4 separate regions of the Homo sapiens genome follow, and all the other regions are linked to region 1. The links come from fine-mapping of genetic effects on gene expression. A gene starts in region 1. Each other region holds a variant in brackets. All regions are shown on one strand. Distances are between the middles of the regions. Region 1 holds the start of LIMD1 (LIM domain containing 1). Region 2 has its middle 34 kb from the start of LIMD1. Region 3 overlaps LIMD1 (LIM domain containing 1). Region 4 overlaps LIMD1 (LIM domain containing 1).

What was found. PIP is the estimated chance that this variant, and not a neighbour inherited with it, causes the effect.
Region 2: its variant is the best candidate, but not a certain one, in a credible set for the expression of LIMD1 in tibial nerve (GTEx, PIP 0.60).
Region 3: its variant is the best candidate, but not a certain one, in a credible set for the expression of LIMD1 in whole blood (INTERVAL, PIP 0.65).
Region 4: its variant is the best candidate, but not a certain one, in a credible set for the expression of LIMD1 in whole blood (TOPMed, PIP 0.62).

What each region holds. Positions count from the first base shown.
Region 1 is chr3:45,591,269-45,598,743 of GRCh38, reverse strand. It overlaps LIMD1 (LIM domain containing 1), which reads right to left and starts at 3,993. Exons shown (of 8, transcript NM_014240.3): 1 at 2,457-3,993. The coding sequence starts at 3,864. RefSeq lists enhancers at 1,122-1,621, 4,117-4,286 and silencers at 4,377-4,506, 4,517-4,986.
Region 2 is chr3:45,556,785-45,564,259 of GRCh38, reverse strand. No RefSeq gene overlaps it. Among named protein-coding and RNA genes, the nearest start is that of LIMD1, 34 kb to the left of the region's middle. The variant C/T (reference allele first, on the strand shown) is at 3,527.
Region 3 is chr3:45,646,738-45,654,212 of GRCh38, reverse strand. The region is part of intron 2 of LIMD1 (LIM domain containing 1); the gene reads right to left. Among named protein-coding and RNA genes, the nearest start is that of LIMD1-AS1, 38 kb to the left of the region's middle. RefSeq lists an enhancer at 6,619-7,120. The variant C/AC (reference allele first, on the strand shown) is at 4,365.
Region 4 is chr3:45,637,853-45,645,327 of GRCh38, reverse strand. All of the region lies in intron 2 of LIMD1 (LIM domain containing 1), which reads right to left. Among named protein-coding and RNA genes, the nearest start is that of LIMD1, 47 kb to the right of the region's middle. RefSeq lists an enhancer at 5,977-6,271. The variant C/G (reference allele first, on the strand shown) is at 3,651.

The DNA.
Region 1 (7,475 bases):
TTCCCTGATCACCCAATTTAAAACTGGAAATCTCTCTGCCACCCCCAGCCCCAGGGCTCCATTCCCTTTCTCTACCTTGATTCTCTCCCTAGTACTTGCTTATTTACTTCATTCACTCCCTGCCTCCTTCTACTACATTGTCTGCTCCAGGGAGGCAGAGGTTCCTGTCTGTCCTGTTCACTATGTATCCCCAAGACCTGGAATAGAGCATGGCCTCAAGATAGGTGCTCAATAAATTTTAATATATGCTGAATGGATGAGTAGCGTCAGCTAATACCGTTGCTCTGATGCACAGCATAAACTTGCATCTCAAGATAAAACTGCTGTTTGTGTTGTCCAATGAGCTTGAAATTTACAACTAAACAAAAGTTTAAATTAAAAGACCCACAGTATTTCCAGCTAACTATTACTCCCAAATGTGGGAATGTGCTGAGGAGAAAAGATAGTTCACAGTAAGATGGTGCCATGTGCTTTAAAAAATAAACCAGTAGGCCGGGCACAGTGGCTCACACCTGTAATCCCAGCACTTTGGGAGGCTGAGGCAGGAAGATCACTTGAGCCCAGAAGAACAGCCTGGGCAACCTAGAGAGGACCCCCCACCTCCACGTCCCCTTCCTCCCCTGCTTCCTCTTAAGTAGTCCTAGCTACTCAGGAGGCTGAGGTAGGAAGATGCCTTGAGTCCGGGAGGTCTAGGGTGCACTGCACTCCAGCCTGGGCAACAAGGCAAGACCTTGTCTCAAAATAAATAAATAAATAAACAAATAAATAAATAAAAATAAATTTAAAAAAAGTAAGCCATAAACAGCTACCCTGACCTCAGCCTGCTGAGTATGGGGTGAGAACTGGCTCCCACAAGGTTCTCATGAGAAGCAAAACACAATGCTACCATAAGCTGCACACATCCAGCAGCCCAGTGCCTCAGACCCTGGTCCCTCAAAGGACCTTGGGACACTTGCTCGTTCACGGAGAATAAGCGTAGACTGACAGCAGTAAGCCAGCTGTCTTCCTCTCCCAGGGCCTTCCCTGTCCCTGCCCTCCACTAGGCAGAGCTGCTACCCCAGCAGGACTCAGGCTATGGGGAACACGGGGGTCAATTATCCAAAGTTAAAAACTGAAAAAGAAAAACCCCTCCGATTCTCTGCGAATAGGCTGTCTTTCTAGTTAGCTCTCTTATGAGACAACTAATCATTACTCAACAGAAAGATACAACTACCACTAAACCTCGTGCAAAGAAAAAAAGTTGAAGCTAGCAGTCTCCAAGAGTTTGTGGTTTTAAAAAAGAGAATAAAACAAAACATGCAAGTTTGAGTAAAACCAGGAAGACACATTTTCCATCATAGTTTGTGCCACGGCTGTGGTGCAACCTGGCTGTTGGCTGTTACCTGGGTGTAGGCTGGGTTAGGAGGCACATGGTGCGGCAGGGCTCAAATCTCACCACACAGCAGGATCACGGCTGGCTGGGTCCCATCCCACAGTTTCTGATTCAGTAGGTCTTGGGTGGGGCCCAAGAATTTCCATTTCTAATCAGTTTCCAGGCAAAGGGATGCTGCTGATCCAGGGACTACACTTAAGAACCACTGCTCTGGCCAGGCGCGGTGGCTCACGCCTGTAATCCCAGCACTTTGGGAGGCCAAGGCGGGCGGATCACGAGGTCAGGAGATTGAGAACATCCTGGCTAGCGCAGTGAAACCCTGTCTCTACTTAAAAAAAAAAAATTAGCCAGGTGTGGTGGCACGTGCCTGTAGTCCCAGCTACTCAAGAGGCTGAGGCAGGAGAATTGCTTGAACCCGGGAGGCGGAGGTTGCAGTGAGCCGAGATTGTGCCACTGCACTCTAGCCTGGGCTACAGAACGAGACTCCATCTCAAAAAAAAAAAAAAAAGATCCACTGCTCTACAAGTCTTTCATGGTAGTGTTTGACCTGCCTCAACTGCACATAAGTACCCATCTACACACAGACACACACACAGACACACACACACGGCAGTCAAGAGCCCCTGCCTCAATCACTGGTCCCTCAAACAGCCAGATCAACCAGATCTGCCCAACCAACTACAGACTGAACGCTCAGGGGTAGCTGCCCCTGAGAAAGCTGGTCCCACTGAAGTCCTATATGAGCCTGTCACTGCAAGAGGCTCTAAAGTCACACCCAAAACCCTTGAAATCCAAAGTCACAGCATTTCTCTTTTCTGAGAGCAGTCATGAGCAATCCCACCCTGCTGCACCCTTCACACATGGGTAACCCCAGCTGCAAGGTCCGCTTTCTGCCCCAGGATGCTTTCAAGTTTCTGAATCAGAAAAAGCAGCTGAAAGAGGAAGCCCAAAACAAAAAAATAAAAAAACAGGCCACTCAAAGAGAGGTAACTACAGCCCACAGCATCCCTGGTAGGGGGCATGTTCCCCAATCTCAAGAACCCCATCGCCCCACCATAGGCAACTCCACCAGCCTCTCACTCACCAAAGTAATCAGCCTTCGGGTGAGCATCCATCTCTCGCTCCAGACGTTGGGTGAGGGCTTCTAATTTCAACTCAGCAGCAGAGGGTCTCAGCTCAGGACCTGGGACGAGGGGCTGGCAGGGCAGCCTTACCCTAGGGGAGCTGGGGCTGTCCAGGAGCACAGATCCCAGGCTACCATCAGAAGACCAGCCCAGGGGACCCTCTTTACAAGATAACTCAGGCAGGGTGGACATCACTGGATGGACAAGACTGGTGGGGCTGAGCTTGGGACCAGTGCCAAGGTCTGTGCAGCCAGGCTTCGGCCCCAGCCCAGGGACCGCACCCTGCTGTGAACCGTCCAGACCAGCTGGCGAGGATGACGGGGCAGAACTGGAAAGGTAAGATTTGGGCCCATCCTGGAACCAGGGTTGGGGGTCCACATTGGGTTTGGACATCACACCTGAAACCTCACCCCCCAGCCCCGAGTTTGATCTTGGAAGACCTCCTTGCCTGGGGCAGCTCAGGGCCAAGGGTGCTGACACAGAAGGGGTCCTGGGCTGAACAGGCCCCACAGCTGGTGCTCCGTTCTCCAAGTTTGGGGAAGGCAGGCCAGGGCTCACCCGCTGGGAGGAGGCAGTGGACCAAAGGCCTGTTGGCTTCTCGCTGCTGCGGCCACCAATGCCACTATTCTGACCACCGAGGCTACCCTCAGAAGACCTGCTGGAGCTCAGGGAGAGCTGTCGGTGATTTAGGGGATGGTCCCCGCAGGGTTTGGGCAGTGGTGGGTCACTCCCCGGGGAGCTAGGCCACCCACTCCCTACACTCAGGCCGATGCTGGGGGACACTCCTGGTTTGTCACCCCACTTTGGGCTTGCCAAGGAGAGGTTGTCATAATAGTCTCCATGAGTGAGGCAGGAAGGATCCTCACAGGGGCCTGGCTGGTGGAAAGCAGACATCTCAGAAGTCGCCAGGCTCTCCCTGGAACCACAGTCCTGGCTGCCATGCCTCGTGCCATGCAGGTATGGCCTGGATCTCTGCTCCTGCGGTGGGTACGGGGGCTGCCCAGCAGCGAGGGTGGTGACTGCCCCAGGTGCCCCTGTCGAGGCAGCAAGAGGAGGCTTGGCAGCACCATCCACAGTCAGCTTGCTGCCCACAACTTCCCAACGGGCCTGTGGGCCCAGGCGGCCCCCTCCATTGACAGGGCCTCTACTCCCCCTGGGCAGAGTCTCCTCCTGCAGGAGCTGCTGCTGCTGCTGCTGGAGGTGGATTTTGGCCATCTTGGTGGCGAACACCCTGCGAGTTTCCTCAAACTCGGGGTTGTTGCCTGCACCCTTGTCCACTCGGAAGAGCCCATCCTTAGAGGCCTCATACATGTTCAGGTCCTCGATGAATTTACTGGCCTCCAGGCCCAGGTCGTCATACTTATCCATGCTGCAGACAGGTGTCCGGGCCTAGCCCAGGTGCCGTGTGTGTGTGTGTGTGTGTGTGTGTGTGTGTGTGTGTGTGTGTGTGTGTGTGTGTGTGTGTGTGTTGAGGGCAGCGGGGAGATGCTGGCGAAGGGTCGGGGCTCAAGTCCGGCCCAGTACAAGTAAAGACTTCCACCTGCCTAGCGTGAAGGGCATGACCCCAGGATTTAAGAGTCCAGCCGAAGTTGAGACCTCAACGCCAGCTGGACCAAGTTTGCTTCCAACTCCCTTTCCCCTGGAGACGTCCTTGTTGGGGTAGCTGGTGGCACTTCGCCGTCCCGGGCCTGCTCAGCGGAGTTCTTTTCTCCTCTTCAAATTATAAAAGGAAAAAGAAAACAGCAAAAAAGTAAAATCACATCCTCCTTAGGCAACCAAACACGGAAACTCACAGCAAGGCAGCAGCCGACTGGGCCGGGTGAAGCTGAATCGGCCGGGAGGGCGCCGAGGCCGCGAGTCGGGCCGGAGCAAACGCGCGGCGGCTGAGGCGCAGGTACGTTCCAGGCGCTGGGTCCTCCGCTGCTTCCCCGGAGCTGCGATCCCGGCCGGCGCCTGGCAGGAACGCCGTCCGGGACGCACGGGCGGCCGAGCAGCGGCAGGAAGTTCACGGCAGCTGGGGCTGGCGGCCCATTGTCCGATGGCGGCGGCGGATCGGCGCGCGCGGGCCGGAGGGCGGCGGGACGCGGAAGTGAGTGCGCCAGGCGCAGTCCCTGCTGCTCGCTCGCCGGCTCTGCACGTCCCGAGCCCGCGCCGGGGCGGAGGGGGCGGCCGAGGGGCGGGGACGGCGCGCGGGCGGGCGCCCAGGGGCAGGCCTGCACCCGGCAGCGTGGCTGGGCCTCCTGCCCCCAGGCCTGGCTGGAGAACACCGAGGGGTGCCCCACAAGTCCGTCCCACGCTCTAGCACTGGGACTGCACGGGACTTCGCCGCCGCCACTGCCGCCCCCTGCGAGTCCTGGACCGAATTGGGTGCTCCGACCTCCCTTCCAGCCTCGGGTCCTCAGCCCGGCCCCGCCCCTGGCAGCGCTGGGCGGGGTCCTCCGCTCGGAGACGGGCGGCCTGGGTAGCCTGCATGGGCCCAACACAGGCGCTGGGAGTTTGCGAGGACTTTCGAGGACGCCGCTCCTCGCTCCACTGCCTCAGTTTCCCCGGTGGAAAGCCAGCCCTTTGTGCCTCTCGAGGCCGGCACCGTCCAGGCTGTGCCCGCCGCCCGGCTTGCCCGAGGTGCACTATTGGAGAGGCGCACGGGCGTGTCACCCATGGCTGGCCCACCGTCCTCTTTGACAGGTCGGGAGACTGAGGCAGAGAGGGGGAAATGCCCAACATGCCAACGTAACCAGCAAAGCGTAGATGGGAGCCCGGGCCCTCTGAAAGAGCGAAAAAGAAGAAAGTCTCGTTGTGCCTGCGCGCATTTCACGTCCTCAGTGCAGCAGTAAAAGCACGTGCCCTAGTAGGCTCGTTATTCGTAGAGGGACCCATCTGCAAGTGGATCCGCGCGGCTGCAGGGACACCAGGCCTGACTCCTTGGCGCCCCCGCATGGCCCGGGACTCCCTATACCAGTTCCCAGGCGATCCTGGAGAGGTTTCATTTCCCACACTACAGCCATCGTGATCCTAAGGCAAATACTAGAACAGACACTTCTCTACCTAAATCCTCAGTGCTTACCCCAGAATTAAATTGAAATCGGCCCCTTGCCGCAGCCTTCTGGGCCAGATCTAGGGATCTTCCCTCCCTCCCTGCACTCTAGCTGCAGGAGCTTCCTGGTGTCTGCCCAGAGCTTGCCCCTAAACTGAGTGGCTCATCTTTCCCATCCCTGCTGAAGTCACCTCCTCTTAGAGGCCTCCTCAGAGTGGTTCCTGTTGTTCTTTTTCAGCACCCTCTTTACTTCCTGCTCAGTTCTGATAACTATTTATAATTATTTATTTGTTGGTTAACATGCGTTTTTTTTTGTTTGGTTGGGTGGTAGGTTTCCCACTCCATTTGACCATATCTGTATGCCAAGTGCCTGGTATATATTAATAGTAGTACCTAATGGTCGAATAAGTGAATTAGTGAACCCCTATCTGCCAGAGTTGTGACAGAGAACAAATAAGATAATATATATGAATGTGCTTTATATTCTGTAAACCAGGGGTCCCCAACCCCTGGGCTACTGACCAGTACTGGTCTGTGGCCTGTTAGGAACTGAGTGGCACAGCAGGAGGTGAGAGGAGGCAAGCCAGCGAAACTTCATCTGTATTTACAGCCACTCCCCATTACTGGCATTACCGCCTGAGCTTCACATCCTGTCAGATCAGCAGTGGCATTAGATTCTCAGAGGGGTGCACAAACCTTATTATGAACTACCCTCATGAGGAATGTAGGTTGCACGCTCCTTATGAGAATCTAATGCCCGATGATCTGAGGTGGAACAGTTTCATCCCGTCTGTGAAAAAATTGGCTTCTGTGAAACTGGTGCCAAAAAGATTGAGGACCGCTGCCGTAAACCCAAAGTATGGTTAATGGACTCCATATCACCAGGGAGCTTGTTGAAAATGCAGAATCTTAGGCCCCATTGCCAACCTACTGAATCAGAATCTGCATTTTAACAAGATTTCTGGGCGGTTTATTTGCACAATAAAGTTACAGAAGCACTGCTATAAAGCACTATACTAAAATGAAGTATTTTTATTAAAAAATTTTTTTTGGTTTTTTATCTACAAGTAATACATGTTTCTATAACAACTTTGAACAATACAGACATATATAAAGTTTTAAAAGTTGCCTACCATCCCCTTTCTCAGAGGTAATCATAATTAAACACTCCTTAGGTGTTGGGTAATACTTATTAATTAAAAACTGGATTTTGGAGTGGAAGACTGGCTCACTTTGCCTGACCTCCAAATATGGCAGTTGTAGCTGACAAAGTGCTAGGAATATATGGCCATCCCTCTGCAAAGTCCAGTAAGCTCAGAGCCAGCTTCCTGGGTTTTCAGTTTGGACAGCTGGGACCCTGGTGCAGGAGCCACAGACACCAACCAGTGCTCTTACATTTGTCTTCTCTTTTCATCCTATCTTGGTGATGGCAGCAGTGGTCCATCTGGAGCAGCCACTGCCATGATGCTAGCTGCAATGGCGAGGTGAGGCCGTGACTGCATGCTCCATAGAGCTGGTAGGAGCTAGGAACAGGCAGGAGCCCCACTCCCTTCTGAGTTGGTGGGGCGGGAGCCCTGCCTTCCCAGGCACAGCTGCATCCACCCAGCTGTGGCTGCAGACCTGGGCATCCCTGTGCTCCCGGGGACCTAGAAAGCCCCCCTACTCCCACAGGCTCAGAAGTGCCTGCTCCTGTTGCCTGGCCTCTCCTGGTGCCCATTCTGATTTTGGAGCAAAGTTGAAGCTGAGCCCAGATACTGTCACGACCCAGCTGGGGGTGCACGCACTCAGGGCAGCACTGACACACCAGTCCCCTGCCGCCTCGGCCCCCTCCAGACTTTGGGTGCCGATGAGCATGGGAGGGAGGCCAGGGTGAGGCTGAGGGCAGTTCGGCATGTACCTGCAGGCACCCCTCAGCATGAACAGCCTGGGTGCCATGGGTGCCATG
Region 2 (7,475 bases), 34 kb after region 1:
GATAGTTCTTTCTGGGGGGAATATTATGCACCTCATTCTCTCCTGTGCTTTTATATCTATCTCTGGCATACACTGAAAAAATGATAAGACATGTGAAAGACAATGTAATCCTTCATCAGACAAAAAGAAATTATCAACAAAAGCAGACCCACAGATAACCCAGATGCTGGGATTAGCTAACAAGGATTTAAGATAACTATTTAAATATGTTAAAGAATTTATGTAAAAAGATAGGCAAACATAGGAAAATATGAAGTATTTGACAGAGAAATAAAACTTTAAAAAAAGGAAATGTTTGAATTAAAATATACAGTATAAATGAAGAATTCATTTATAAATTTAATAATAGAGTCCACACAGAAGAAGAAAGAATTAGAGAATTCAAAACACATGCCAGTAAATATACAATTATCCTGTGACCTAGGAATTGCATTCTTGGGCAGTGTTTTAGTCCATTTTCTATTGCTTGTAACAGAATACCTGAAACTGGGTAATTTATTAAGAAAGGGAATTTATTTTTTACAGTTATGTAGCCTGAGAAGTCCAAGGTCAAGAGGCTGCATCTGGTGACAGCCTTCTTGCTGGTGGGAACTCTGGTGTCCTGAGGGGGTGCAGGGCATCATGTGGTGAGGGGCTGAGCATGCTAACTTGCCATCTTAAGTCTCTTTTCTTCTTTTTATAAGGTCACCAATTCCCCTCCCATGATAACTCATCAATCCACTAATTTATTAATCCATTAATCCATTAATGGTGTAATCCAATCACCTTTTTTTTTTTTTTTTTTTTTTGAGACAGAGTCTTGCTCTGTCACCCAGGCTTGAGTGCAGTGGTGCGATCTAAGCTCACTGCAACCTCTGCTTCCTGGGTTCATGCGATTCTCCTGCCTCAGCCTCCCAAGTAGCTGAGATTACAGGCACATGCCAACACACCTGGCTAATTTTTGTATTTTTAGTAGAGATGGGGTTTCGCCATTTTGGCCAGGCTGTTCTTGAACTCCTGACCTCAGGTGATCCACCCGCCTCAGCCTCCCAAAGTGTTGGGATTACAGGCGTGAGCCACAGCGCCCGGCCTTCCAATCACCTCTTAAAGGCCCCACTTCTCAATACTGCCATTGGGGATTAAGTTTCAATAAGAGTTTTAGAGGAGACATTCAAACCACAGCATTTACCCAGAGAAATGAGAAGTTATATTTACACAAAAACCTGTACATGAATGTTCATAGCAGCTGTATTGATAATAGCCAAAACTTGAAATAACCAAGATGTCCTTTGATGGGTGAATAGTTAAACAAACAATGATATATTCATACCATAGAATTCAACTCAATGATAAAAAAAAGAACTATTTATAAATGCAACAACTTGGATGAATCTCAAGGGAATTCTGCTGAGTATAAAAAGGCAATCTGAGAGGCCACATGCTATATAATACCATTTATGTTAACATTCTTGAATATCCAAATTATAGAGATGAAGAACAGATTAGTGGTTGCCAGAGGTTTGTGATGAGGTAGGGGTGTAGTAGGAAGATGGGGGTGGTTATAAAAGGGTAACTTGAGGAAACATTGTAGCGATGAAATTGCTCTGAATCTGAACTGTGATGGTGCATACATGAACATACATCTGTGATTGAACTGCAAAGACTAAATACATGTGTGCACGTGCACACACACACAAACACATACAATCAATACAAGTAGAACTAGGAACATCTGAACAAGATTGATGGATTTTATCAAGGACAGTATCCTGGTTGTGATATACTGTAATTCTGCAAGATGTTATCACTGGGGGAAACTAGGTAAAGGGTCCAAAGGATATCTATTAATAATTTCTCACAACTGTATGATTTCTTTTTAAAATTAAAAAAAAGTACAGAACAGGCTGTCAGAGGACTGTGAGACAATATCAAATGATCAAATGTAAATTTAAGTGATACACCAGAAAAAGAAGAGAGGTGAAATTGGGGAAGAAATATTTGAAGATGTAATGGCTGACAATTTTCCAAAATTGATGAAAGATATCAACCCACAGATTCCTAATCTTAAAAACCCCAAGAGGGATAAATACAAAGAAAAAAACTACAACTAGGCATATCCTAGTCAAACTATAGATAAAATCTTTAGAGTTAAAAGAGAAAATCTTATAAGTAGCCAAAGGAAAGAAAACATTATCTTTAATACAACAACAAAAAGAATGATGGTTAATTTTCATCTGAAACAATGAAATCCAGGAGTCAATGGAATGACATCTAAAATGTTGAAAAAAAAAAGTACCATGCTAGAAGGCTATATCCAGTATGGTATAGGGAAAGAAAGGTTTCTCAAGCCAACGCTATGAGAACTTACTGCCAGCAGAACCACTATAAGAAACACTAAAGAAAATGCTTTAAGCTAAAGGGAATTTATCTCAGATTGAAGCCCAGAACTACAGGAAGAAGAAAGAACTCCAGAAATGGTAACTATTGAGGTAAATATAAAAGTATTTTTTCTTTTTAAAATTTCTTTAAAGACTTGACTGTCTGAAGCAAAAATAATATGCATTTATGTGGGATTTATAAAATATGTAGAAAAAGTATATGCCCATACCTTCAAAGGACAGGGAAGGGAAACTGTTGCAAGAATGGGTCAATTTTTTTTTTTTTTTTTTTTTTTGAGATGGAGTCTCACTCTGTCGCCCAGGCTAGAGTGCAGTGGTGTGATCTCGTCTCACTGCAAGTTCCGCCTCCCGGGTTCATGCCATTCTCCTGCCTCAGCCTCCCGAGTAGCTGGGACTACAGGCACCTGCCACCACGCCTGGCTAATTTTTGTATTTTTAGTAGAGACGGGGTTTCACTGTGTCAGCCAGGATGATCTCGATTTCCTGATCTCGTGATCTGCCCACCTCGGCCTCCCAAAGTGCTGGGATTACAGGTGTGAGCCATCGCGCCCGGACAAGAATGGTTCAATTTTTACCTTGTTTGTAAAGTGGTATAATATTAACTCAAGGAAGATTATTATAAGGTTGTATGTTGTAATATCTAAAATAATAACTAAAAATACCTCCGAGGAGTACAATAAATATATTATCTGTTCAATATTCACACCTGGGTAAGATGGGCATTGCTACTTGATTTACAGAGAAAGAAACTGAGGCTTGGCTAAAGCTTTGCCCTAGGTCACCAGATAGGGATATAGGTACACTAGAACTCAACCCAAGTTTTTAGACCCCCAAGCCCAGTGACTCTTGTGTCATTGACAGATTTTCCCTGTACAGGGGTAGATAATAAATATTTTAGACTTTGTAGGACATAAAGTCTCTGTCGCAACTACTCAACTCTGTTCAAAAACAGCCACAGATGATATGTAAACAATTAAGCATGGCAGTGTTCCAGTACAACTTCATTTACAAAAACAGATGCTAGGCCAGCTTTGGCCCACAGGCCATCATCCGCCAATCTCTCCATTATTCCACTGCCCAGTGGTTTTCAGTTCTGGCCCAGAGAGGGCCATTCTGATCCATAGCCAAGGTCCAGAACCACCAACACA[C/T]CCAGTGGCTTCTATCTAGTTTAAACACTTGGTTGTCCTCCCCACTCCTCTCCCCTTCCTGGTTCCCATGAGCTCTGGCCTCAGCATTTTGGTGAATAGAAATGTTCAGTCCTTCTGTACTCTCACCTCAGGGGAAATATCCCCGCGAAGGCCAGGGATTGCTGGGCCCCGTTACTGAAACACGTTGTACTTCCTCAGCTTTCCAATTTTCCAGTCTTAAAATAGACCCACAGTACTTCCTCTGGCAGCTCCCTCACTCCCTCCTCGCAGCTGTCTTTGCTTCCCCGTCCGGCTTCTTCACTTTTGGGGTCAGCCCAGCTCTTGGCCACCAAGACTTGAAAACACACGCAAACTATTTTGCAATGGGCTACTGTGTTCAGACGATGCCCCACGGCTGATCCTCAACAATCAGTGATTCTGTGGCAGCCAGAGAGACCAGAGCCAAAGTCTTAACTGAAGGGCCAAGCAGGAAACCCTCCAATTGTTACCCTTTTGTTCCCCATGAGGAGAAATCTCCAGGCATCATTTAGGGCTGCTCTGCAGTTTTCAACTTACAGAATGTCCCCAAACTATTTTCAGCACTGTTTCCTCTCAGAACTCCCACCCTACCCACCAGCTGGCACCCCCGGGTCAACTTTGGAATTAAAGAAATCAAAATCCCATTTCTGTTGCACTAACTTGAGGTCACAGAGCCGGCGTAGGGTCAGAATCAGAACTAAAGTTTTTCCTGCACCGCCAGCTTCACCCAAAAGTCTGTAACCACTTCCCCCGCCCCAACAACATTCATCTGGGCCAATCTGAAGGTCAGGCTTTTAGCCCATCCTGACCAGCTGCTTAGGACTCCTAAGGTCAGAGGCACTGCAGGGAAAATTCCACTTAGGGCCTGAGGAACAAATCCACTGATCACCTCCATCGCATGTTTGTAAAAATGAGAAAAGCTGCCTGTACTGGGCAGTCAGTCCCACGGGCACATAGCCTGGGCGGCACGTGGCTTGGGCAGCAGGGCAACCACCAACTTCAGCCCCACTGGGTCTCTTGTCTGGGTGCCTCTGTGCAGTGCACAATCTATACAACCACACCAGGGGCCTTGCTGACGAAGTGGTTTAGGGATTCTAAACTCTGCCCACCCTCCCAGAAAAAAAAAAGTGCAGGTACCTTTATGGCTGGTATATAGGAATACACCACTACCCAAACCCAGTGGTTGACAGGACATTACTGTGCTCCCCTACTGTACATTGTGTTAGATTCTAGAGACTCTCCATCATCAAGGTGCTGCTCAGCCCTCAAGGAAGTAGCCAGCCTAGCAGGGAAAACAGACACCAAGACGATTTCAGTACAATGCTATCTTAGGAGTCTAACTCAAGGTATTAAGTAGACTTCAATGGACAATTATCCACATTTCATTAAATCAAAGATCTCACTGATTTTAAGGTGCATGTACCACACATACACACACACAACAAAAAAATGCTGACATTAAACTATGGCACGGTGTTCTCTTATTACTTAGATTTTTAATTCTATACTTATTGAACTACATACTTCAGACTTATTTAGATTATTATTTTTAAATTTAGATTATTATTATTTTTAGACAAAGTCTCACTCTGTCACCCAGGTTGGAGTGCAGTGGCGCAATCTCCACTCACTGCAACCTCTGCCTCCCAGGTTCCAGAGATTCTCATGCTTCGAAGAGCCTCCTCCCAAGTAGCTGGGATTATAGGTACGTGCCACCATGCCTGGCTAATGTTTGTATTTTTAATAGAGACGGGGTTTCGCCCTGTTGGCCAGGCTGGTCTCAAACTCCTGACCTCAAAGTGATCTGCCCATCTCTGCCTCCCAAAGTGCTGGGATTACAGGCATGAGCCACTGTGCCCGGGCATTATTTAGATAAATTTTACCATATATCACTATGATACATATATAAAAAGGAAAATACAAGTAAAATAAGTTAGTTAAGGCATGGCTGAAATTTGTTCATTCAGAACTCTTCTGAATCACTGTTTTACAAGAGTTGTGATGTCCACATCTTCTATGCTCTGATCCTTCCCATCGTCACGAGCACTGAGGATGTGGCATTTCCTAACAAGCTGCTCCACTCTTGTCTCTGGGATTTTCTTCCAAGTTACCAGTGGTCATGTGCAAGATTTGCAGCAATGACATCACAACTGTTCCCTTTAAGAACACATCTTGACTTCAGAGATGCTAAACTGGAGAACTGTGCACTGGTGAGACAGGTTATCCAGCTGTGGGGAGGGCAGGTTGGTTCTGCAGGCTCCCTGGCAACAATTGAGAAGCCAGCTGTAGAGTCTTAAACCTCCCTGTGCATAGCGATTGCAACAAGATGCTGAGAAACTGTATTCAAACTCCTCCAAAAATGGTGGTTTGTCTCTCATGAGGTGAGCAGGTTCCCTGAAAGAGGGACTGGGGAGGCAGCTGAGCATCCCTGGGCTAGAAGACCTCTGAGGGCCTCTGCAGCCCGAGTCCCATGTCCTTGTGATGGTTACAACAAAGAGATATAGAGCTGTGGCCTTTCTTCTCCTGCCTTCTCACCACCTTCTGCACATGGGCAGAGAGGTAGCCATCAGGGAAGCAAATGGGCACTTGCCTCCCAGAGGCCTCTCCATGGGCCATGCAGGGCGAAACACACGCTGCTGACTCACTTCAGCCATCATAACCCAAAGGCTGGCCCCAGGGACATGCCTCCTTGGAATGGACACATTCTCAGTCTGCCCTACCTTGAGATCCTGTCTTAGGAGATTAACTCAAGGTATTAAGTATCTTAGGAGTTTAACTCAATTTCCTCGGGAGGATACAAAGCAGGTTCACGCGTGGTGGCTCAAGGGCACACAGTGACCCCTTCCCAGCCAGGCCCCCTCAGCTGTAGGCTCTGGACCCCTGAATGAGCCTGCCCTCCTGGCTGTCCCCACAAGGCAGCACCCTCTACCCTAGTAATGTGCTGATGTTCCAGTCCTGGTCTTTCCCTCTCCAGCATGCTGCCAGGGCCTGTCCACTGGCAACACTGCTCCATCTGCCCCTTCTCTCTCATTCCACAGCTCTGCCCTCACCCAGAGCCCCAGCCATTCCCTGTCTGCTCGGGGGCTGGCCCCAGATGAGCTCCTCACCACCTTGCTCTGGGCACTGGCTGGGCGCAGTGGCTCACGCCTGTAATCCCAACACTTTGGGAGGCTGAGGTGGGCGGACGACCTGAGGTCAGGAGTTCGAAACCAGCCTGGAGCCTGGCCAACATGGCGAAACCCCATCTCTACTGAAAATACAAAAACTTAGCCGGGGGTGGTAGCAGGCACCTATAATCCCAGCTACTTGGGAGGCTGAGGCAGGAGAATCGCTTGAACCCGGGAGGTGGAGGTTGCAGTGAGCCAAGATCATACCATTGCACTCCAGCCTGGGTGACAAGAGGGAGACTCTGTTTTTGTTTTTGTTTTTTTTTTAAAAAAGGTTCTGACCTTGCCTCTCTGTAACCTAAACCCTTTCAGTGATTGTTCAAGGCACACAAGGAGCTAGCCAGGGAGAGCGGGGAAGGGTGTTCTGGGAGAGACCAGCCCCTGCGAAGGCCCGGAGGGGAGATGGAGTGCTGGTCCCTGACACCTGCTTGGGCCTCCTGTGTCTGGAGTGGAGAATGTGTGGTGGTCCAGGGCCTGGAGAACAGGTTCATGAGATGGGCAGGGGCCACATTGTTCATGAGGGTTTTGTGAGCCATACTGGAGATGGGCATTCTAGGGAAGGCCCTAGAGGGACCATTTTCCAGAATGAGTGTAGCTCTTCTCAGACTGTAATGTGCATTTGGGAATCATCCAATGATCTCAGTAAAATGCAGTTTCTGATTCAACAGGTCTGGGGTGGGGTCCAAGAATAAGCATTTCTAACAAGCACCCAAGGTGATGCCCATGGTGCCGGCCTGGGATCCCCCTGAGTATCTAGGGGCTGC
Region 3 (7,475 bases), 55 kb before region 1:
ATCAGTAGTCACTTGGATTGTTTTGATTGTACTGTCCCAGTTAGTGACTTCTACCTGTACTGTCCATGGTGGCTACTAGCCACATGTGGTTATTTATGTAAGTTTAAATCAATTAAGATAACATCAAAAATTTAGCGCCAGGGCTTGAACAAGTATATCTTGAGTACTTGATGGCCACTTGTGACTAGGGAAGCTTTAGAATATCTGCATCATCGCACAAAATTCTAACCAATCTACTTCTTCAAATAGCTTTTCTAGAATAGGTTCTTTTTTTTTTTTCTTTTTCTTTTTTTTTTTTTTTTTTTGAGACAGTCTTGCTCCGTCACTCAGGCTGGAGTGCAGTGGTGCAATCTTGGCTCACAGCAACCTCCGCCTTCTGGATTCAAGCCATCCTCCTGGCTCAGCCTCCTGAGTAGCTGGGACTACAGGCATGCACCATCACTCCCAGGTAATTTTTGTATTTTTAGTAGAGATGGGGTTTCACCATGTTGGCCAGGTTGGTCTTGAATTCCTGACCTCAGGTGATCTGGCTACCTCAGCCTCCCAAAGTGCTAGGATTAGAGGCATAGGCCACAACACCCAGCCCCAGAATAGGTTAACTCTTAAAAGATATTGCTAAAAACAAATCAATTTGGTTTGGCTCAAGTGAAGGAGAGATCCAGCCTCGATTTTGCAGGCTTGCCAAGCCTCAGTAAGCCAAGGAGCACAGCAGAAAGGGGCAAAGTGGAAAAGCACTCAGGCTTGGGGTCCAACCTTGCCTTTGCCCCTTCCCTGAAATGAGACCCTGGCTGTCACCCAAACCCTTCAGGTTCCCTGGTAAGGATAAAAGTGGGATCACAGTAGGGAACGCAGCCCAGTGCACCTCATACCAGGCATCTGGTGTGACTGTTGCCAGCATCCCTACCTGACCTTCCGTTTCCTCAAATGACACCCACCAGAGCTAAGAATCATAACCACCACCCTCTCTCCCTCCTCATCCAAATCCCCTACATCACTCCTTCCTTCTCAGTTTATCTGTGGCAAAGGGCTAGGTATGGGAGGCTTTTGTTTTTAATTTCCATCTGTCAGACTTATTATCTTGTAAAATACAATAATATAGAAAAATGAAACATAAAATCCAAGCCCCAACTGTAGTTATTATCCAATTCAACTGACACAAAGCCACTCTGTCAAACTCTTAGGAAGGTCTCTAAACGTTCTCATCTCTTTCTCGGCCTTTGCTGGTGCTGGCCAAGGACCATGTTCTGAGCACTGCTGCCTCACGCTCCAATTCTCTTCTCACGTGCCACTCCAAAGTCTTTGTCTTATAGTTAGTTTTCCATTTCCCCTATTCCAGGCTATTATCGTCTGGATCAGAGATGAGAATACTGCACACAGAGACAACCCAGAGATGTGCAGAGGGTCTCCGTTAAGTGTTCAGCAGAGCATGGATCAGCTCTTGCCTGTGAGGAAACTAACCAAAGTCAGAGGACAAACATCTGCAGGATTCGCAAGAACAGTGCCTGGCACCCACAAAAGCTGGAAACAGTGCCTATTCCCACCAGCCCTGAGAATGAGGAATAATAGAGCCCTAGACTGAGCTCTGCTTTGAATTCATCTAATAAATCATAAAAGCAAGACTAGAAAGAATCACTGTTCCTAAATAATTTAACAGCATCCCAGAACAATGCTCAGAAGATTGAAAGAATACAAAATATCCAAGACTCAAAAAGGTAAAGTTTACAATGTCTGGCAGCCAATCAAATATTCCCAGGCATGCAAAGAGGCAGGAAAGCACAACCCACAGGGAAGAGAATAATCAATCTATGGAAATCAACCCCGATCAGACACAGATATTAGAATTAGCAGAGAAGGACATTAAAAGCTATTGTTTCTATATTCAATATGTTGGAAATGTTAAGTAGCAACATGGAAAATATTTAAAAGGCTCAAACTGAGCTGCTAGAGATGAAAACCAAAATGTCTGAGATAAACAATACATTGGCTGGCCGGGCATGGTGGCTCTCACCTGTAATGCCAGCACTTAGGGAGGCCAAGGAAGGCGTATCACTTGAGGACAGGAGTTTGAGATCAGCCTGGCCAACATAGTAAAACTCCACCTCTACTAAAAATACAAAAATTAGCCAGGCATGGTGGCTCATGCCTGTAATCCCAGCTACTTAGGAGGCTGACCCGTGAGAATCGCTGGAACCTGGGAGGCGGAGGTTGCAGTGAGCCGAGATCACACCATTGCACTCCAGCCTGGGCAGCAGAGCAAGACTCTGTCTCAAAATAAATAACAGGCCGGGTGCGGTGGCTCACGCCTATAATCCTAGCACTTTGGGAGGCCGAGGCAGGTGGATCACCTGAGGTCAGGAGTTTGAGACCAGCCTGGCCAACGTGGCAAAACCCTGTCTCTACTAAAAATACAAAAATTAGCCAGGCATGTGGTGCATGCCTGTAATCCCAGCTACTTGGAAGGCTGAGGAAGGAGAATCGCTTGAACCCGGGAGGTGGAGGTTGCACTGAGCTGAGATCATGCCACTACACTCCAGCCTGCACAATGGGGGCAAGACTCCATCTTAAAAAAAAAAATAACCATCTGATCTTTGACAAACTTGACAAAAACAAGCAATGGAGAAAGGATTCCCTACTTAATGGTGCTGGGAAAACTGGCTAGCCATATGTAGAAAGCTGAAACTGGATCCCTTCCTTCCACCTTACACAAAAATTAACTCAAGATGGATTAAGGACTTAAATGTAAGACCAAAAACCATAAAAACCCTAGAATAAAATCTAGGCAGTACCATTCAGGACACACGCACAGGCAAGGACTTCATAACTAAAACACCAAAAGCAATGGCAACAAAAGCCAAAATAGACAAATGGGATCTAATTAAACTAAAGAGCTTCTGCACAGCAAAAGAAACTACCATCAGAGTGAACAGGCAACCTACAGAATGGGAGAAAATTTCTACAATCTACCCATCTGATAAAGGGCTAATATCCAGAATCTACAAAGGACTTAAACAAATTTACAAGAAAACAACAACCCCATCAAAAAGTGTGCAAAGGATATGAACAGACACTTCTCAAAAGAAGACATTTATGCAGCCAACAGACATATGAAAAAATGCTCATCATCACTGGTCATCAGAGAAATGCAAATCAAAACCACAATGAGATACCATCTCATGTCAGTTAGAATGGCGATTATTAAAAAGTCAGGAAACAACAGACGCTGGAGAGGATGTGGGAAACAGGAACGCTTTTACACTGTTGGTGGGAGTGTAAATTAGTTCAACCATTGTGGAAGACAGCGTGGCAATTCCTCAAGGATGTACAACTAGAAATACCATTTGACCCAGCCATCCCATTACTGGGCATATACCCAAAGGATTATAAATCATGCTGCTATAAAGACACACGCACACGTTATGTTTATTGCGGCACTATTCAAAATAGCAAAGACTTGGAACCAACCCAAATATCCATCAATAATAGGCTGGATAAAGAAAATGTGGAACATATACACCACGGAATACTATGCAGCCATAAAAAGGATGAGTTCATGTCCTTTTTGGGGACATGGATGAAGCTGGAAACCATCATTCTCAGCAAACTATCACAAGGACAGAAAACCAAATACCGCATGTTCTCACTCATAAGTGGGAGTTGAACAATCAGAACACGTGGACACAGGGAGGGGACATCACACACTGGGGCCTGTTGGGGGGGGTGGGGGGCTGGGGGAGGGATAGCATTAGGAGAAATACCTAATGTAAATGATGAGTTTATGGGTACAGTAAGCCAACATGGCACATGTATACCTATGTAACAAAACTGCACATTGTGCACATGTACCCCAGAACTTAAAGTATAATTTAAAAAAAGATACATAAATAAATAACAAAAAGCTTTTTAAAAATTTTAGAAAAGAGAATACACTGGATGGGATTAATAGCAGATTACACCATGCAAGAGAAAACATTAGTGAATTTAAAGGTACAGCAATAGAAAATGTCCAAAATGAAATGAGAGGAAAAGAACTTTTTAAATAACGAAATGGGCATAAGTGAGCTCTGGGACAACTTCAAGATGCCTAAGATTGGAGTAATTGGAGTCCCTAGTGGATGGGGAGGAATGTGAAGAAATAGATTTGATGAAGACTGACTACAAACACACAGATCCAAGAAGCTCAACAAACCCCTAAGCACAAGAAACATGAAAAGCACACCAAGGATATCATAATCAAATTTCTCAAAATCAATGATGAAATCTTAAAAGCAGCCAGAATGGGGGAAAAACATGTCACATACAGAGAATAGAGATATCAGATTTCTCATTAAAAAAAAAAAGGGAGAAAATAGTAAAAAAAAAAAAAA[C/AC]AAAAAAACTTCAAGGAACTCAAAAAAGTATCAAGCTAGAATTCTATATCCAGCAATATATATATTTTATATATATAATTATATATATAAAATATATAATTATATATAAATATATCTATATAATTTTATATATATATATGTATACATATATATAATTTTTTTTTTTTTGAGACAGAGTCTCACTCTGTTGCCCAGGCTGGAGTGCAGTGGTGCAATCTCGGCTCACTGCAAGCTCTGCCTCCTGCGTTCACGCCATTCTGCTGCCTCAGCCTCGCCAGTAGCTGGGACTACAGGCACCCGCCACCATGCCCGGCTAATTTTTTGTATTTTTAGTAGAGACGGGGTTTCACCATGTTAGTCAGGATGGTCTCGATCTTCTGACCTCATGATTGGCCCGCCTCGGCCTCCCAAAGTGCTGGGATTACAGGCGTGAGCCACCGCGCCCAGCCAAAAAAATATATTTTAAAATAAAAAAATGAAAGAAAGATAAATTCAGAATACAAAAGTTTAAAGAATTCATCACCAAATCAGCATACGAAAAAGAAAAAATGTTAAGAGAAGTCCTTCAAGCAGAAGGAAAAATGGTACCAGATGAAAACCTGAATCTAAACAAAGGGATGAGAAGGAGCAGAAATGGCAAATGCGAGGACAAGTGAGACTTTTTTCTTATTAGTTAAATCTCTTTAAAACATTTAGAAGAAAACATGGACATGAATCTTTGTGACCTTGGGTCAGCCAATGTTTTCCTACAAAAAGCACCAAAACACTGGCAAAAAAAGAAAAAAAGTAGATAAATTCTACTGCATCAAAATTTAAAGCCTTTGTGCTGTAAACAATACCATCAAGAAATGAAATGACAGTCCACAGAATGAAAGAAAATATTCCCAAATCCTATACAAAGAACGATTAAGACTCAATAATAAAAAGACAATCCAAGTAAAAATGAGCAGGGAATTGAGAAGACATTTTTCCAAATAAGACATACCAATGGCCAATAAATGTATGAAAAGATGCTCAACATCATTAATCATCAGGAAAATGCAAATCAAAACCCACAATGAGATCCAACTTCACACCAAATAGGATAGTTAGAATAAAAAAACTAGATAAGCCTAAGCGTTGGCAAGGATGTGGAAATACTGGAACTCTCATACATGGCTGGTGGGAATGTAACATGGTAGAGCTTCTTTAAAAAACAGGTCCTCAAAAGGTTAAACACAGTTACCATATGACCCAGCAATTTCACTCCTAATATTTACCCAAGAGAACAGAAATGATACATTCACATAAACACCTGCCTAGGAATGTTCATAGCAACATTATTTATAATAGCCAAAAATAAAAACAAGTGTCTATCAACTGCTGAATGGATAAACAAAATATGGTACATCTATACAAGGGAATACTATTCAGCCATAAAAAGAAATGAGATACTGATTCATACTACAACGTGGATGAACCTGGAATGCACGCTAAGTGAAAAAAGCCAGACACAGAAGATCATATATTGTATGATTTCATTCATATGAAATATCCAGAATAGGCAAATCTATAGGGATAGGAAGATCAGTGGTTGCTTAGGGATGAGGGAAGGTGAGTAAGGAGGTGAAGTGATGAGTACCAGGTAATGGGGAAGTGTCACCTTTATTTATTCCAACATTTATTCTGTGTTCAGAATTATACTAAAGGTGCTGAAGGGTTATAAGGAGTAAAATCATGATCAGTTAAACCCTGTCCCTATTTTTCCCAAAACTGATCACCTAGGGGGAGATAGAGATTCCTGCAAACAGTTTCAATCTAATCATAATTGAAAACACCATAGGACAGGCAAATGAAGGGTGCACATGGGACCCAAGATCAGGAGAGTAGCAATGGAGATGGCAATGGAAGACACTGAAGGGAGAGTGATATTCACCTGGGTGGTGATGGAGGCTAAGGGTGACAAGGTACAGGGGTAGAAAAGGACAGGTGATGTGCAGTGTGGCCAGGGACTTCAGCACTTCGGGAGGCTGTGGGGCAGCGGAGGAGGGGGATAGTTAGAAAGAAAGAAGACAGGAAGGAAGTTAGAACTAATTTAAGGAAATGTCTTAAACACCAGGCAAAAGAACTGGACTACAATGTTAAGGCAAAAAGTAGCTGAAGGTCTCTGAGCTGTGGAGTGGCCTCCTCGCTGCTGTGCCCAGAGACCAGACTGGAGGTGACAGCAGTGATCCATGCAAGAGACAGAGACGCTCTGCCCAAAACAGGGCATATGGGACCCTGCTGGCATCCAAATGCCACCAATGGTGACCATTGCAGGGCTGCTGCGGATGTGGAGAGGCAGCTGTCACCCTGCCCCTGAACACAGGGAAGGGCCTGCATCCTCTGGCCAGGCATTGGATTTGCCGGACCCCCAGGCTGACCCGTGCCCTGCTATGCATCTGGTCCTTGAAAACCTGGCCACAGGATCCACACTCAGCCAGCCTCAGTACTCCTGGGAAGAGTCTGGGAGCTCCCATGGTAAGAGTTCACTTCCCCTTTAAACTTTAACTGGCAAGAAGGTTATGTTGGCTTTGAGTCATCAAATCAACAGGATCTTACGCAGCAGATGGTTATGAAGACTATGAAGCAATGAGGGAAAAGGCATATGATATATTTCTAAGTGGAAAAAGCAGGGCATAAAAGCAAACATACACTGTGATGACAACCAGGCAAAAACGTCTATGTAGGCACAGCATACATTTTTGGGGGTTCTTTTTGGTATTGAATTATAGGTGATTTTCTTCTCCCATATACATTTTTTGACAATGTGACTACATTGACTTGGTGATGTATAAAATATCAAAAACAAGAAACTTCATGAATAATTTCCTACTAATAAGTGAACTCTGGCTAAGATTTAGAGGCCGGGCATTGTGGCTTGCACTTGTAATTCCAGCACTTTGGGAGGCCAAGGCGGGAGGATCACTTGAACCCAGGAGTTTGAGACCAATCTGGGCAACATAGTGGGACTCCAACTCTACAAAAATTAATTTCAAAAAAATTAGCCAGGGGACTAAAGGGACTGAGGTGGGAGGATCACTTTAGCCCATGAGGCAGAGGTTGCAGTGAGCCATAATGCAGCACTGCACT
Region 4 (7,475 bases), 47 kb before region 1:
CCCTGTCAGGGACTTCCTGGCCTCTGACTGAACCAGCAGAGTCTGACCTGGGAAACCAGGTTTGGCCCCAACTCCAGTGCACTAGCAGAACTAGGCTTGCAGGAGACGGACACAAGAGACCCTTTGATAACCAAAGTAAGTGGCCCCTCCACTCTCTTCCGATCCCTGCAGCCCTCTGGCCAGCTCCAGCCTATTTTGGTTGCTTCCTGATCTTTCCTGTGCCCACTGATTTCCTTTAGCATCTGCCCACTCTTCCTTTCTCACATTCTTGATCTTCAGCTTTTTCCTTAGGTCCTGCTGACTCATTCAGCTCATACAGAACTGCTGAATATGATGAGAAATATTCGGACAATTCGACAGCTCAGAAACTCAGGGATTAAAGCCCTTAGTCCATTTCTCTACTATGGGTGCATCCCATGATTGAATTCTACCTCCCCTATTCCCAGCCCCAGGCCACTCTCCTGCACTCACAACTCGAGGGTGGCCAAAAATCCAGTCTCTGTTGTCACACAACCCCAAGGCAGCGGCTGAACCTGAAAAGTCAAGGCAAGGCCCCATGGCTACAGCCCGGCTCCTGTCTTTGGCAAATACTCTCTCTAAGCAAAGGTAATTTAATACAGTGGCTAACAGCAAGAGCTGTGGATCCACAGGTCTTGGGTTCAAGTGCTGACCACACCACTTAACAGTGACGAAACCAACCACAAACTAAACTCTCCAAGCCTCAATCTGTACATCTTAAGTTGAGAGTAATAATAATAATGAACGTTGAACTCCCTGAATTGTTACAGGATTTAGTGCGCCGCCATGGGTGGAGGAGGGTTATGCGGTGTCAGGCCCACGGTAAGCTAGAAAGCTTACCCAAAATTATCTATAAATATCGCAGTGACTGTTTTACAGAAGCAGACCTGCATGAATTAAAGGAAGACCTCCCTAGTTCAGGCTTAACTCATTCAAAATGTGTAAGCATTTTCAGGGGCTGGGTTGACGAGGTCATTTACAAAGTCAACAAAAAAGGGAAAGGATTTCAGATGCAGTATTTAGACTTTGTAAGAAAAACAAAATAGCTGGCAAGAACCCTCCAGTCCTTCAGAGGCGAACTAACTGGTGAGTCAATCACCAAGGACTTATTCATTCGCTAAGAACCTCTGTTCCACAACACTAGGCTTGGTCCTAATTGTTTTATTTATCTCAAGTAACAAAATGGCATTTTGTGAGTGTTCTAGATGCAGGCTTTTTATTACTAAGAAAGGCTTTCTTCCAACTGGGTCTCAACAAGTGAGATTTTACTATAAATCCCATTCGCAGTCTTCAACAGCCATGGACATTCGGTTTTTGGAAGGTGAAATGAGCAATGGTATATAATCTTAGTTTTGCTTTTTTCTCCCCACTAAGGCATGGCTGGCAGGTCACAGTGCATCTTACACCGAGCAATACAAACAGTAGGTTACACCACTGCAATTCATTCTGGCCTTGACTTACACATTCCAGCACCATCCCAAGTGGACCCCGTCTGGCCCTCTGCAGCCTTCCACTGAGCTCGGACCTGCACTAGGCGTAATTTCTGTCAACTGTGGGACTGGCTGCTTCCCAGCTTCCATCCCCAAGGTGGGCACCCCCCTGCTCCATGGGCTTCTGGCGGGGAGAGTATATTTACCTAGTCCATCATTTTCCGTCTCATATCACCGAAAAACTAATAGGAATCATGACACTAACATGGCAAGTAGGATGGAATTTGTTTAGTCTGTGAAATGAACGTCTTAGTTTTTAAACCTCAATCTGCCTGGAGTGAGCACACAGGACCTTGCCTACTTCTCCCTCACAGACCATTCTTTTTTTTTTTTTTGAGACAGAGTCTCACCCTGTCGCCCAGGATGGAGTACAGTGGCGCAATCTTGGCTCACTGAAAACTCCGCCTCCTGGGTTCAAGTGATTCTCCTGCCTCAGCCCCCCAAATAGCTAGTATTATAGGCATGTGCCACCACATGCGGTTAATTTTTGTATTTTTAGTAGAGATGGGGTTTTGCCACATTGCCCAGGCTGGTCTCAAACTCGTGACCTCAAGTGATCTACCCGCCTCAACCTCCCAAAGTGCTGGGATTACAGATTGAGCCACCACGCCTGGCCTCCCAGACTATTCTTGAAGGTGCCGAGAAGTCCACTCAACCCCACAAGTCAGCGTGTTTTTCCTCCTCTCATGCTGCTGCTTCTGAGGCACAGGTGGGAGCCAGCCTCCCTCAGACAGGCCACTTGACATGTAAGTAGACACAGCTGTCAACAAAGGCCACTCCTGTCCTCTCCACAGACCTCCCTCCCACTCCAGGGTGTGCCAACAGCTTCCTGAGAGTGTCCAGTGCCAGTGGGGGGGCATGGCCGCCTGGGGTGGGCAGAGCCTGAGGGGAGAGGAGGGAGACCCACAGCACTCATCTCCACGGCAACCAAACATTCCCAGCCCAAGGAGCACAGCAAAGAAGAAGGGAACTTGAACAAACCACACAAACGCCCACACCACAACCTGATGCTTACTGCTGGAACGAGCACCAAGGAAACAATCCCACAGAAGGAAAGAAAGATGCTGCACGAAGATGCTGGCTGGGGCTGTGTGTAACAACCTGCAAACCAGCCATTAACTGTGGCACAACTCATCCATCACCATGTAACTTAAAATTATTATTATGAACTATGACATGATGTTAAATTGAAAAGGATACAACATTGTTTATATACTATGATCGCAACTCTAAAAAATGTGTATAAACTTGGGGAAAACCTGGCAGGGAAAACATAAAAGTGACAGTAGCTGAGCTACAATGCTAACATAACAGGTTTCTGTCTTTAAAATTGTCTTTGCAGCAGCCAGATGTGGTGGCTCATGCCTATAATCCTAGCACTTTGGGACGCCAAGGCAGACAGACTGCTTGAGCCCAGGAGTTTGAGACCAGCCTGGGCAACATAGCAAGACCCTGTCTCTACAAAAAATAATAAAAAATAGCTGAACATGGTGGTGCATGTCTGTAATCCCAGCTACTCAGGAGGCTGAGGCAGGAGGATCGCCTGAGCCCAGGAGTTCAAGGCTGCAGTGAGCTGTGATCCCACCATTGCACTCCAGCTTGTACGACAGAGCAAGACCCAGTCTCAAAAAGAAAAAAAAAAAAAAGATACAATTTTCTCACAGCTTTCCCCATTGCTGCTTCTCATCAGCAGATGGGGAAATGTTCATATCCGTGTAAGGGAACCTGCCATGGTGCCTGGGAGAACTGCACATAGCCATGTATGCAAAGGTTTGCCTGAATCTTGGTGGAACACCTTGTAGGCTTCCAGAACATAAAAAGATGCACGGCTGTCTCTCATTCACCTCCCTATTCCCCCAGGAGCCTGTCACCAGACAGTGTCTCATCTCTAATGAGGTATGGGAATTTCTGCCTGCCTCTCAGAACAGAGCTGTGGGCTCTGAGACCACTTAGCTGCAGTCTAAAATTGCTTCTCAAAATCCCACTTATGTGGCAGTCATCAGCCCCTTTTGCTTCAGTGTCATCCTCTTCAGTGTATGGGACAAGGACCCAGGAAGATGGTACCTTTGACACATTCTTTGTGTTGCCTGCCTATGTAAGTAATAAACTGCCTAAAGTAACAGTGGCTTGTTGTATCTTTAC[C/G]AAACTAGTCAGGCCCTGGACTTGCCCTGTAAATGTGTGTGAGCTTAACAGTATCCAAATACCATGGTTTAATGCAGTATCAATGGACCTCAGGAAGTATGTGTATATACCAACAGATACCTCCATATGCCATATGCTATATATATATAAAAAATATAAATAAAATAAAATATATATAATTATATATAAAATCTGGCTTTACATACTATATATAGTGTTTTAAACTAGATTTTCATAATTGAAATGGGAAAATAGAAAAGATACATATACAAGTATGTTCAGAAATACACACACTCACCAGACTCTATCAATAACCAAGATAAGATAAAGAACAGAGAAAACACACTTATTTTTGCTTGACTAGGTGGAAATAAATCAGAGGAGGGAGAACCAGAAAAACAAGGAAGTACAGGTGAGCATAGATTCAAGAGGTCTGGATTCCATGCCAGCTCCATAGCCAGGTTTTTGACCTTGAGAAATTCTTCCCCTGTCTGCCCCCATTTTCTCTTCTAAGAAGGAGGGGATGCCCTAGATGCACCCAGACCCCCAGCTGTGCCGTCTCCATGGTGTTGAGGCTCACAGAGACACACTCAGGACCTGCAGAGCTGAGACACAGAGCTCCCGGGTGCCTCCTTCTGCTGAAAACTGAGGTAAAGGGCAGCAATCTGGTAACTGAAAAAAGACAAGTCACCTCCAGTGTCTAAGAGAAGCCGCTGAGACACAAGCCCAGTCTCCAACATTCCAACTGCTCTTTGGAACTGGACAGGAAGTGGGACATTCACAGAGCAGGAGGGTGTGCAGCCCCAGGGCAAACAGCAATGCCCCTGCACTCACTTTTTGACAAAATCCGAATCCTCATTCCTTCAGCAACTCTGTTCTAGGGCCTGGTTTGCTGGCAATAGATCCACAGAGAATGAGGTTCACCATCTATGTAATAACACCAACAAGGGTTGGGAGTGGTGGCTCACGCTTGTAATTTCAGCACTTTGGAAGGCCAAGGCAGGCAGATCACCTGAGGTCAGGAGTTCAAGACCAGCCTGGCCAACATGGTGAAACCCTGTCTCTACGAAAAATACAAAAATTAGCCGGGCCTGGTGGTACATGCCTGTAGTTCCAGCTACTTAGGAGGCTGAGAGGCAGGAGAATCGCTTGAACCCGGGAGGCAGAGGTTGCAGTGGGCTGAGATCATGCCACTGCACTCCAGCCTGGGCAACAGAGTGAGATCCGTCTTAAAAACAAAACAAAACAACAACAACAACAAAAAACAACAAGAAAGCAGAGTGCACCAAATTCAGGAGAAGTCTCTTCCTGCTAAGGAAACAGGGAAGGCTTCCTGGAAGAGGAGGCATTTGAGCTGAGTCATAAGACTGGACAGAGAAATGTATTAAGTGAATGGGGAGAGGCTATTCTAGATAACAATGTGATCAGAGGCATGGAAGTGAAAAAGAGAAATTCAGTTTGACTGGAATAGGAAACAGGAAGTGATAAGACAGGGACAAGACCACAAAGGCCTTCAATGCTAGACCAATCAAAAACCCAAACCAGGTCTGTCTTCCTTAAGTGTCTGTGCTTGTCACAATTTGAAGAAAGAGAAACTCAATCCATTAAGAAATAGACAGCCACTCTAGCAGCCTTGGGTGGAACCCACAGACTCATCTGCAATGGGCTGAATGTCTATGTCCCCCTAAAATTCCTATGTTAAAATCCTAACCTCTGGCCGGGCATGGTGGCTCACGCCTGTAATCCCAGCATTTTGGGAAGCTGAGGCGGGTAGATCACCTGAGGTCAGGACTTCGAGACCAGCCTGACCAACATGAAGAAACCCTGTCTCTACTAAAAATACAAAAATTAGCCAGGTTTGGTGGCGCATGGCTGTAATCCCAGCTACTTGGGAGGCTGAGGCAGGAGAATCGCTTGAACCCAGGAGGCGGAGGTTGCGGTAAGCCGAGACTGCGCCACTGCACTCCAGCCTGGGCAATAAGAGCAAAACTCCATCTCAAAAAAAGAAAAAAAATCCTAACCTCCAAGGTGACGGGATTAGGGGGTAGGGCCTTTGGGAGGTGATTCTCATGAGGTGGAACGCTCAGGAATGGGATTAGTGCCCTTATAAAGGAGATCCCAGAGAGCTCCCCTTCTACCATATGAGTGCCCGGGAAGTGGGCCCTCAACAGACACCTCATCTGCCAGCACCTTGATCTTGGACTTTCCAGCATCTAGAACTGTGAGAAATACATTTCTATTGTTTATAAGCCAACCAGTGTATGGTACTTTGTTATAACAGTCCAAACAGACTAAGACGCTCATCAATTGGTTTTCCCTCACCAACAGCTTCCCTAATTCAAATGGTAACTGCTTGAGGTGGAAAACAGCCTCTCCTTAATATTTATTTTCTTTTTCCTGAAAAATAGAGCAAGTATTGAGAAACTGTTGTAGGAGTCAAAGGTCAAAGATAAATTGTAAACAAAGATCTGATACAAGCAGCCAACAAACATGAAAAAAATGCTCAAGGGTCAGGTGTGGTGGCTTATGCCAGTAATCCCAGCCCTGTGGGAGGCTGAGGTGGGAGGGTCACCAGAAGTCAGGAGCTCAAGACCAGCCTAGGCAACACAGCGAGACCTCTGTCTCTACAAAAATTTTAAACCATTAGCTGGGCATGGTGGCACATGCCCGCAGTCCCAGCTACTCAGAAGCTAAGGCAGAAGGGTTGCTTGAGTTCAAGGCTGCAGTGAGCTACAATTACATCATGGCACTCCAGCCTGGATGACACAGTGAGACCCCATCTCAAAACAAAACAAACCTCCACATCATTATCATCAAAGAAATGCAAATCAAAACCACAAAATGGCCATTATTAAAAAGTCAAAAAGTAGATGTTGGCAAGGCTATAGAGAAAAGGCAATGCTTATACACAGTTGGTGGGAGTGTAAATTAGTTCAGCCACTGTGGAAAACAGTTAGGAGATTTCTCAAAGAACTAAAAATAGAGCTACCATTTGACCCAGTAATCCCATTACTGGATATATATGCAAAGAAAAGTACATCTTCTACCAAAGATACCTGCACTCGTATGTTTATCACCACACTATTCACAATAGCAAAGACATGGAATCAACCTAGGTGCCCATCAGCAGTAACTGAATAAAGAAAATGTGGTACATATACACCATGGAATACTACACAGCCATAAAAAAGTGACATCATGTCCTTTGCAGCAACATAGAAACACAAGAAACAGAAAACCAAATAGCTGAAAAACTTTCTACTGGGTACTATGTTCACTGTGTGGGTGACAGGACCAATAGAAGCTCAAACTTCAGATTCACACAATATACCTTTGTAACAAACCTGCACGTCTTGAATCTAAAACTAAAATTAAAATTTAACTAACTAAATAAATAAATAAAGGGGGGCCTAAACACAACTCCCATATGGATAAAACACAAACATGTGCCAAAGACTTTATTTAACTCATCAATTAATAAAGGAACCAATTAATGGGTTTAATGGGGAGAATTCAAAGAACCATAGGCCATCAGGAATGTTGAAATCAATTTGCTAAATAGATTGCAAAACTGGTCAATCTCCACAGGGTAACAATCATCAACTGCACCTCACCAGACAGTCTGCATTGCTATAGACAAGAATGTGTTGTACCATCAATATTCTACAACTTACAGAGTGCAACATAGCTCAAAGACAAGGAAAGGCACAGAGACCCAGAGAATTCGATAACCAGACCACTCCTAGATTTCCACTGCGGACATTCTCATAGTCTTTCCCTACACAGGTGAACACTGATCAATGTGTAAACCATAAACTCTCAGGC